3 linked regions of the Homo sapiens genome follow. The protein of the gene in region 3 purifies or fractionates together with the protein of the main gene of each other region. This does not show direct contact. Each region holds a gene or a part of one and is shown on either strand. Other genes may lie near its edges.

Region 1 (2,893 bases), on a different chromosome or scaffold from region 3:
TCCAAGGAGGCGCCCATAGACTTACTTACAAATGGGAATTCTCGGGCCAGGAGCAAGGGGCTGTTCCCAGGCACCCATGCAACCGTATCTCCCCTGCTGCCCCCACAGGTCTACATGTGGGTGGGGACCCAGACTAGCCAGGTGGAGATCAAGCTGAGCCTGAAGGCCTGCCAGGTAATCTGGGTGGAGGGAGGGCCGAGGTGGGCCTGTGGGCAGGGCAGGGTCATCACCCAAGGCTCGCTGTCCCCTTGCCAGGTATATATCCAGCACATGCGGTCCAAGGAACATGAGCGGCCGCGCCGGCTGCGCCTGGTCCGCAAGGGCAATGAGCAGCACGCCTTTACCCGCTGCTTCCACGCCTGGAGCGCCTTCTGCAAGGCCCTGGCCTAAGACAGGCTGGCACAGCCCCAGGCTTGGTGAGGAAGAGGAAGGGGCCTCATCCACTGTCTGCTAGCAAAGAATGTACTCAGGTGACACCACCTGCTCCAGCCACGTCCAGTGCCACAGTCCCCAGTAGCCTCAAGCAGCACCAATGGGGATGACCCTGACAGGTGCCCTCAGGGGTCTGGGAAATCCAACTCTCTCCACAGTGTGAGTGCACGTGTGAAGCCCCCTCACTCTTCCGCTAGGGATAAAGCAGATGTGGATGCCCTTTAAGAGATATTAAATGCTTTTATTTTCAATATTAAAAATCAGTATTTTTAATATTAAAATGGCGCTAATTTTAACAAAACGACAGAAAAAAACCCCAAGGTACAATCTACAGGGAAACTCATCTTGACCCCCCCCCCTGCCCCCCCCCCCCGCCGGACACACACACCTGACTAGGCCCCAGATGTGGGTGCCCAGCAGAGCTCCCAGTCACATCCATGCCCGCACACACACACTCATGACAGGCTGGGGACTGGCCCAGAAGCAGGTACCAAAATAGTTTAGTTTTAGAAACAACTGTCCAGCCCAGGCGCTAGAAAAATACTCTTTGCAGGGCTGGGCATGGTGGCTCACGCCTGTAATCCCAGCACTTTGGGAGGCTGAGGTGGGTGGATCACGAGGTCAGGAGATCGAGACCATCCTGGCTAACATGGTGAAACCCCATCTCTACTAAAAATACAGAAAAAATTAGCTGGGCGTGGTGGTGGGCGCCTGTAGTCCCAGCTACTTGGGAGGCTGAGGCAGAAGAATGGCGGGAACCCAGAAGGCGGGGCTTGCAGTGAGCAGAGATGGGGCCACTGCACTCCAGCCTGGGCGACAGAGCAAGACTCCGTCTTTAAGAAAAAAAAAAAAAAGGAAAAATACTCTGCAAAGTGAGGGGGAAGGATGGTGTGTGGAGGGGGGGAGGTGGCACAGGTGCTGGGCCCCACCTGTCCTCTTCCCTAGGCAGTGGGCCCCCAGGGCAGCCAAATGCCTGCAGGAGGGCTCAGTTCTGGCCCAGGTCCCAGGCCCACACCCTGGGGCTGGTGCTGCTCCAGGGCCCAGGGTCAGGCGGGACAGGACAGCAGGTCCCAGTGGAGCCTACAGGTTAGCAGGCGTGGTTCTATGTTAAGGGGCCAGGCAGGTGCCAGGGATCCAGCACTCCAGCTCCGAGCAGGGCAGGTGGAGGTCGGGATAGTTCTGGCCTTCCTGGAAGAGGGAGAGAAGAGGTATCAGCAGAAGGTGAGGGAGGGCAAAAGGGCAGATGGATTGCCACAGCGGCCAGACCACACAGGTGCTGCCACTGTCTCCTCTGCAGGGCAGGCATGGCCCTTCAGTGACCACCTGAGATGGGCTTGCTGAGTCTCCAGATGGGTATCCAAGCGCCAGGCCACATATGCCCCACTGAGGCCAGGGAGAGGCACCAGACAAAGAGCTGGGAGGTGTCCATGTCCTGTGCAGGGTGAGGCTATGGCCTACAGTCAGGTGCCTGGGAACATGAGGCAGCAAATGCGCTGGGCAGATCTATGGGCCCCACATCTAGGTGAGGATCCACAGACTCAGGCAGGGGTAAGTCAGCCACTTGCTGGGCCCAACCGATGAGACCTGACCTCGTGCACCTCAGTGATCTCATCTATGAAACAGGCTGGCCAAACCAGCTCCCAAGCCCCAAACTACTGCCACCTCTAAGTGGTTTAATCTGGTCTTGTTGGCCGGGTGCGGTGGCTCACGCCTGTAATCCCAGGACTTAGGGAGGCCGAGGCGGGTGGATCATGAGGTCAGGAGATCGAGACCATCCTGGCTAACACAGTGAAACCCCGTCTCTACTAAAAACACAAAAAATTAGCTGGGTGTGGTGGCGGGCGCCTGTAGTCCCAGCTGCTCAGGAGGCTGAGGCAGGAGAATGGCATGAACCCAGGAGGCAGAGGTTGCAGTGAGCCAAGATCACGCCACTGCACTCCAGCCTGGGCGACAGAGCAAGACTCCGTCTCAAAAACAAAACAAAACAAAACAAAACAAAACAAATCTGGTCTTGTCCTAACCACCACCTGTCACATGCAAGGGCTGAGGGGCTGGCCCTGCTTTTCTAATACCCAACCATGACACTGGTGTCTGTGTGAGCACCAGAAGTCCCCAATTGAGGCACTCCATGGAAGGCAGCCAGGTTTCAGAGAGTGCCATCACATGGGCCTGCCAGGGTCTCAGGTAGAAGACCAGGGCCAAATGGTACCCAGACGGGCTGAAGGGGGTGGACGTCACCAGTGGTGAGGACCAGGGCCCCACCCCTGCAGCACCTCATTTGATCAGGATGGCACAGGCGTGGGCCTCGTCTTCTGCCAGGTTCCTCAGGTTCTTCTCTGACTCCTCAGAGGAGCTGCGAGATGGGGATGGTGCTCAGGGGTGGGGGCGGGGGAGCCCCTGGCAGCCCTGGGGACGGAGGCCTAGGGGACAGGGCAGCCCCCCCTGTGGACCTGCCCACCAG
Region 2 (3,752 bases), on a different chromosome or scaffold from region 3:
AGCCACTCAGGAGGCTGAGGCATAAGAAGCTTGAACCCAGGCGGCAGACATTGCAGTGAGCCGAGATCGCGCCACTGCACTCCAGCCTGGGTGACAAGAGCGAGACTCCGTCTCAAAAAAAAAAAAAAAAAAAAACTTTCCTTTTTAAATTACCTAGTCTCGGGTATGTCTGTATTAGCAACATGAGAACAGACTAATACAGTGAGGAAATGAAAAATCACTCAATAAATGAAGTTTAAATACTTGTTGCTCTTTGAGAAACATAACGTATACTCGTCTTCACATAGTACACCAAAATAAATTCCATATACATTAAAGATATAAATTTTTTAAGCCATTAAAAGTACTAGAAGAAAATTTTGAAGAATATCCTTGTGAACTTGAGTTAGGAAAAGGCTTCTTAAATAAAAAACCAGAAGCAAAAACCATAAAGAAAAACAACCAACACACTTAATTATGTCAAAATGACAAAGTATTATACCAAAAAATGCTGTAAATAAAATTAAAAGATAAACCAAAAGCTAGGTGAAAAATACAGTGAACATAAGTATAATGATCTGTAAACAGAGTATGTAAAGAATTCCTACACGGGAAATGCCAATTTTGAAACAGCGATAATTAGAGGGAAGGAAACTTGTGTTATAAAGGGGAAAAATGTTTGTGGAGGCTTTAGCTCAACTTAGAAAGCTTTACACTCAAACTACCATAAAGCACCTGAATTTTTTTTTCAAAAAAGAAAACATGTTCATACTCTACAAGTATAACTAAAACAAATTTTAAAACCACAGGCAGTTGTCCCTTGGTATCTGCTGGGGACTGGCTCCAGTAGAACGTATCCAGATATCCAAGACTGCCCCAGACAACAAAAATCCCAGGATGCTCAAGTCCCTGATTCAAAATGACACAGTAATTGCATAAAACCTATGGATATCCTCCAGCATACTTTAAATCATCTCTAAATTACTTATAATACTTAATAAAATGTAGATGCTATGTAAATCGTTGTTATACTTATTGTGTTTTTTATTTGTATTATTTTTCCATGTTGTATTATTTTTTCCCAAGTATTTTCTTTTTTTTTTTTTTTCCACTTTTTTTTTCAAGGTGACTTTAAGATTCTTTCCCAAATATTTTTGGTCCACAGGTGGTTTGAGCTGTGGATGCAGAACCCACTAAACTATAGCTATCAACTTTATAGACTTCTTTCAAAGACAATATAGATCTAAACTAGATCTCTCTGATTTCCTAGCATCATTTCAAAGCATTGGCTTAGGTCAAGTAACAACAGGCTTCAGCATATTAAACAATATTTTCCCAAAATCCATTGTTATGTAAATTGATTCTTATAAGTGTTTCTTCATTGAAAACAGTACCAAGTAAATCATATTGTCAAAAATGAGATTCTAAAGACAGTATCTATTCTGGTCAAACAGGTTAAAAGTCCTCAAAAATGTGAACACACAGGTGGTTTGAAATAACAGGCAGGTGGTTTCAAACCTGTGGGGGGAGCGGGGTGGAGAGGCGGGAGATGTTTTGTGTTTTTGTTTGTTGAGACAAGGTCTCCTCTGTCACCCAGGCTGGAGTGCAGTGGTACAATCACAGCTCACCGTGGCCTCAACCTCCCAGGCTCAAGCACTTCTCCCACCTCAGCCACCCGAGTAGCTGAGACTACAGGCGAGCATCAGCACACCCAGCTAATTTTTGTATTTTTGGTAGAGGTGGGGTTTCACCATGTTGCCCAGTCTGGTCTCGAACTCCTGGGCCCAACGGATTCGCCTGCCTCAGCCTCCCAAAGTACTGGGATTACAGGCGTGAGCCACCGTGCCCAGCTGATGGTACTTTCTTACAGCAGCCCTATCAAATTTACGTATCTCATCTCCTACATAAGAGAGAAACAAAGAAATCAAACAGGAACTATCTCAACTTTCTCTCTCCACATGTTCATTGACAGCAACAACCATCCTTAACTTCCTCTATTCTGATGGAAGTGGGCTACAGCTAATCCTTCCACAGGGTACTTTAGTCCCCATTCCCTCTGGCTTCTCCAGAGAAACCTTAGTTAATGAACACTTTTCCTCTCTAATGCCTTTTTAACTTCTGTCTATAATACATCTTGTTTCTTAAGCACTCCCAATTTTTTGACACTCTCCTCTCTTGGTTTCTTTATATCATATGCTCTTTTCTTCTAACCCTCCTCCTTCTTTGTTCGTTCCTCCCTTAAATGTTTCTGATCTTCATCCCTATGTTATTCTCACACTACAATATCATCCTTAAGAAATCCTTTCTCCCTGCCTCCACCAGCTTAAAATAACATATGTACAACAAAGACTCCAAATTCACTACTTCTCCAGTACTTTTTTACTTCTCCTTTGAGAATCAAAACTATGTATCCCACTTCTGGACATCTTCACTTATACTCCTCACATGCACCTCAAATACACCATGCCCCCAAACTGAACTCCGTATCAAGGTCTCCCCATTCCAAAACCAAACCTGCTGCTGCAGGGGAAAAAAAAAAAATCAAAAAAAGAACATGGTAGTGGACAACATCTATTCACATGAATAACATCAGCTGCTCAAGCCAGAGCCTGAGAGTCCTCCCAAAATCTTCATACTCCATATACACACATATTATCAAAACAATACAATTCCTGTTGCTTTGATTTCTAGGTACCTCTTAAATTGATCCTCTTCCTCCATTCCCACAATTATTACCTTGGTTTATGCCATCCTATCCTACCTGAATTAAAACAACTTTCTAACCTGACTGCCTGCCTCTAGCCTCAGAGTCCTGTATTAGTCCATTCTCAAGCTCTATGTAGAACTACCCATAAGACTGGGTAATTTATAAAAGAAAGAGGTTTAATTGACTCACAGTTCTGCAGGGCTGGGGAGGCCTCAAGAAGCTTACAATCATGGCAGAAGGGGAAGCAAACACATCCTTCTTCACATGGCGGCAGGAAGAAGTGCCAAGCAAAGGGGGAAGAGCCCCTTACAAAACCATCAGATCTAGGCTGGGCGCGGTGGCTAACGCCTGTAATCCCAACACTTTGGGAGGCCAAGGTCAGTGGATCACTTGAGGTCAGGAGTTCAAGACCAGCCTGGCCAACATGGTGAAACCCTATCTCTACTAAAAATACAAATATTACCCAGACGTGCTCACTTGAACCCAGGAGGCAAAGGTTTCAGTGACCCAAGATTATGCCACTGCACTCAAGCCTGGGTGACAGAGCAAGACTCTGTCTCAAAAAAGAAAAAATAAAATCGATCTCGTGAGCACTCACTATCAGAACAGCATGGGGTAACCGACCCCACGATTCAGCTACCACCAGGTCCCTCCACAACATGTAGGGATTATGGGAACTACAATTCAAGATGAGATTGCTGGGGACACAGCCAAACGGTAACAGTCCCCAGTCAGTGTTTTTCAAACTTAGAATTATGACCCAATAGTAGGTTGTGAAATCAGCTTGATAAGCTGCAACCAAGCTTGTTTTCTTGTTTGTTTTAAATGAAATAAAATCACTACATACCCTGAGCCAGAATCACCCAACACACTCTTCATGAAATCTGAGATGTTTGTTTTTCAAATCCAGTAAGTTCTGAAGTAATTGTAATGCAACAAGAGATAACAGTATTGTTTTCTGCAATGTTTCAGGTGTGCATATGCATGCACATGTGCATACTGGATCACAATATAAAATGTACTTCTTGGCCAGGCACAATAGCCTGTGCCTGTAATCCCAGCACTT
Region 3 (3,752 bases):
GTGGTGGTATGCATCTATAGCTCTAGTTACTTGGGAGGCTGAGGGCAAAGTATTGCTTGAGCACTGGAGTTTGAGGCAGCAGTGAGCTATTATGGTGCCACTGCACTCCAACCTGGGTGACAGGGCAAGACCCCATCTCAAAAAAAAAAAAAAAAAAGAAAAAAAAAAGGCTTTTTTCCCCAGCTGGTATTCACTGCAAGTCAGGAAACAATCATTGTTACTGATAATGACTGACTTGATTCTCTCTGGTGTATCTGAGGGATATCTAACATCTCTTTTTATTTACAGAGGAGTTATTAGAGCCCAGAGGCTGACTTAATTTAATGTGTCTACCCTAGAGTATTTCCAGTGGACTTCAGCTGATAAGTTGAAGTTATCTTCAGCTGATAAGAGAAAAACAATTTGAAAGTTATTCTCTTGTAATGTGTTATCCATACATGCATGTAACACTGATGATTTTCTTTATTAGGTTATGGTAACATAACAAACTAGCAGCAGGAGCAGTCATGGTTTTGTAATAAAAGTTATCTGAAAAAGTCTGTTACTGGTGGAGGGTGTCCAGGTTCTTGGCGTTTTGGACAAAAAATTGGACAAAACACATAAACAAAGCAAGGAAACAATGAAACAACAAAAGCAGAGATTTACTGAAAATGAAAGTACACTCCACAGTGGGGAGCGGGCCTGAGCATAGGGGCTCAAGGGCCCTGTTACAGAATTTCTGAAGGTTTAAATACCCTCTAGAGGATTCCACTGGTTACTTGGTGTACACCCTATGTAAATGAAGAGAATGAAGTAAAGTTACAAACTCATTTACTCAGCATACACCCTATGGAGAGGATCTTTCCTGTTATAGCTAAAGTGTGAATCAGCCTTATGTTCCCTGCCTCCAGACCCTATTTTCCTGCCTCAAATCTCTAATACTTGATTTTGATGATTTAACTGTTGATCCCAATGCAAATATAAAAGACTTTGTAAAGCATAGACTATACTATATATTAATTCAAGGAATGTCAGGGCATGTACTGATGTTGAATTCTGAGAATCATGTGCTTTTGTACAGAACAAAGTCTGTTTGTTGAAATATTTTGAGTTAAAATACTCCCTAAAACTCCTTAATAAAGGGAATTACATAATCTGTTAATTGATTTGTGGAACGGCAGTGAAAGAGGCTGTATTAGACGACTTGAAAACACTCATATTTGGAGCTTAACGAAAATACTCCTGCTCTCCAGAGATGAAATGTTAGTGAGAGCAGCAAATAATTTATTTTTATATGCTGGATTTGCGTATTTGAGACCATCTATTAATACTGTTCTTTAGGACCTCAACCTAGTCGTCTAAGACATCCTTATTAAACGAGACCAATAGATATCATTTAATATTGAAAATATTGTTAATGCCCTTCAAAATCTTTCGAAGGAATAAACATTAAAAACTAGAAATTCTTTGTAAAATTTTGCGGTTTAAAATAATACTCGGTTTCAAATTAGTGGGTGCCTCATTTATCATAAATTATAAAAGAGAATCTAACAGTTATTGGCTACATTCTAGGCACGGGGTAACGCTTTACTATTCTTCTAACCAAAAACATACATGTATCTAAGTATCCCATGTAAGGTATCATTGAACCACACAAAACCCTATGAAATACTGGCAGGGGGCGGTGGCTCACGCCTGTAATCCCAGCACATTGAGAGGCCGAGGCAGGAGGATAATTTGAGCCCTCAGGAGTTCAAGACCAGCCTGGGCAACAGTCTCTTCACCATCAAATCCAGGAGAATTAATTTCTACTGTTAGAGCAGTCAACTAAAGGACAGCTCGCGATATTACACAAACTACTACTCCCAACATGCAAAGCGGTTTCTTTCCCTCTGTCCCCGCCCGGCCGTCCGAGAGCCCCAGCAGGCCTCGGGGCGCGAAAGGCAACCTGGGAGCAGTAGTTCTCCCGGGCGCCTAGCGGGATCGCCAGCGCGGCAGTGGGGGCTTCCGCGGCTGCAAGCCAGCGGGTCCTGTGAGGGCGAGCGGAGGCGGAGAAAGGGCGCGGGAGTGAGAGAGGGTGAGTCAGCCACTGTCTATGCAATAAAGGGAGGCCTCACCGCGGGATAGGGCTGAATTCAGAAGTGCGGCCCGTGCCGCAGTCTGTTCCAGGACGCGGCTTGTCTTAGCGTCAGCGAGGGAAGGTTGAGGAGGAGCCAGAGCCTGGTCCTGCAGCCTTTCTCGCCGTCAGCGCCCGTCGCCATCTCCACCATGCAGTCCCGGGAAGACGTCCCGCGCTCTCGCCGCCTCGCCAGTCCCCGTGGTGGGAGGCGGCCCAAGAGGATTTCCAAGCCCTCGGTTTCGGCCTTTTTCACGGGTCCAGAGGAGTTAAAGGACACGGCCCATTCTGCAGCCCTGCTGGCACAGCTCAAGTCCTTCTACGACGCGCGGCTGCTGTGTGATGTGACCATCGAGGTGGTGACGCCTGGCAGCGGGCCTGGCACGGGTCGCCTCTTTTCCTGCAATCGCAACGTGCTAGCAGCTGCGTGTCCCTACTTCAAGAGCATGTTCACAGGTGGCATGTACGAGAGCCAGCAGGCCAGCGTGACCATGCACGATGTGGACGCCGAGTCCTTCGAGGTGTTGGTCGACTACTGCTACACGGGTCGTGTGTCTCTCAGTGAGGCCAATGTGCAGCGCCTGTACGCGGCCTCCGACATGCTACAGCTGGAATATGTGCGGGAAGCCTGTGCCTCCTTCTTAGCCCGACGTCTTGACCTGACCAACTGCACCGCCATCCTCAAGTTTGCAGACGCCTTCGACCATCACAAGCTTCGATCTCAGGCCCAGTCCTACATAGCTCACAACTTCAAGCAGCTCAGCCGAATGGGTTCAATTCGGGAGGAGACTCTAGCAGATCTAACCCTGGCCCAGCTGCTGGCTGTCCTACGCCTGGATAGTCTGGACATAGAGAGTGAGCGGACTGTATGCCATGTAGCTGTGCAGTGGCTGGAGGCTGCTGCCAAAGAGCGGGGTCCCAGTGCTGCAGAAGTCTTCAAGTGCGTGCGCTGGATGCACTTCACTGAAGAAGATCAGGACTACTTAGAAGGGCTGCTGACCAAGCCCATCGTGAAGAAGTACTGCCTGGACGTTATTGAAGGGGCCCTGCAGATGCGCTATGGTGACCTGTTGTACAAGTCTCTGGTGCCAGTGCCAAACAGCAGCAGCAGCAGTAGCAGCAGCAACTCTCTTGTATCTGCAGCAGAAAATCCACCCCAGAGACTGGGTATGTGTGCCAAGGAGATGGTGATCTTCTTTGGACATCCTAGAGATCCCTTTCTCTGCTATGACCCTTACTCGGGGGACATTTACACAATGCCATCCCCTTTGACCAGCTTTGCTCACACTAAGACTGTCACCTCCTCAGCTGTCTGTGTGTCCCCAGACCATGACATCTATCTAGCTGCTCAGCCCAGGAAAGACCTCTGGGTGTATAAACCAGCTCAGAATAGTTGGCAGCAACTTGCAGATCGCTTGCTGTGTCGTGAGGGCATGGATGTGGCATATCTCAATGGCTACATCTACATTTTGGGGGGACGAGACCCTATTACTGGAGTTAAGTTGAAGGAAGTGGAATGCTACAGTGTTCAGAGAAACCAGTGGGCATTGGTGGCTCCTGTCCCTCATTCCTTCTATTCCTTTGAACTCATAGTGGTTCAGAACTATCTTTATGCTGTCAACAGTAAGCGCATGCTTTGCTATGATCCTAGCCACAA

The links.
Region 1: the proteins of KBTBD7 (region 3) and LLGL1 purify together in Homo sapiens (co-immunoprecipitation; 5 studies listed by BioGRID and IntAct, with this or other methods). This does not show direct contact.
Region 2: the proteins of KBTBD7 (region 3) and ERC1 purify together in Homo sapiens (co-immunoprecipitation; 5 studies listed by BioGRID and IntAct, with this or other methods). This does not show direct contact.

Annotation. Positions count from the first base shown.
Region 1 is NC_000017.11:18,242,635-18,245,527, reverse strand, and holds the end of LLGL1 (lethal(2) giant larvae protein homolog 1), read right to left. Parts: intron 2,786-2,893; coding exon 2,707-2,785; 3' UTR 2,706-2,706; intron 1,621-2,705; coding exon of another isoform or gene 1,479-1,620; 3' UTR 653-1,478; downstream 1-652. Other genes in the region: FLII (protein flightless-1 homolog), read left to right, coding at 109-390. UniProt on the Homo sapiens protein: Cortical cytoskeleton protein found in a complex involved in maintaining cell polarity and epithelial integrity. Involved in the regulation of mitotic spindle orientation, proliferation, differentiation and tissue organization of neuroepithelial cells.
Region 2 is NC_000012.12:1,022,178-1,025,929, reverse strand, and holds part of ERC1 (ELKS/Rab6-interacting/CAST family member 1), read right to left. Parts: intron 1-3,752. UniProt on the Homo sapiens protein: Regulatory subunit of the IKK complex. Probably recruits IkappaBalpha/NFKBIA to the complex. May be involved in the organization of the cytomatrix at the nerve terminals active zone (CAZ) which regulates neurotransmitter release.
Region 3 is NC_000013.11:41,192,753-41,196,504, reverse strand, and holds the start of KBTBD7 (kelch repeat and BTB domain-containing protein 7), read left to right. Parts: upstream 1-1,935; 5' UTR 1,936-2,247; coding exon 2,248-3,752. UniProt on the Homo sapiens protein: As part of the CUL3(KBTBD6/7) E3 ubiquitin ligase complex functions as a substrate adapter for the RAC1 guanine exchange factor (GEF) TIAM1, mediating its 'Lys-48' ubiquitination and proteasomal degradation.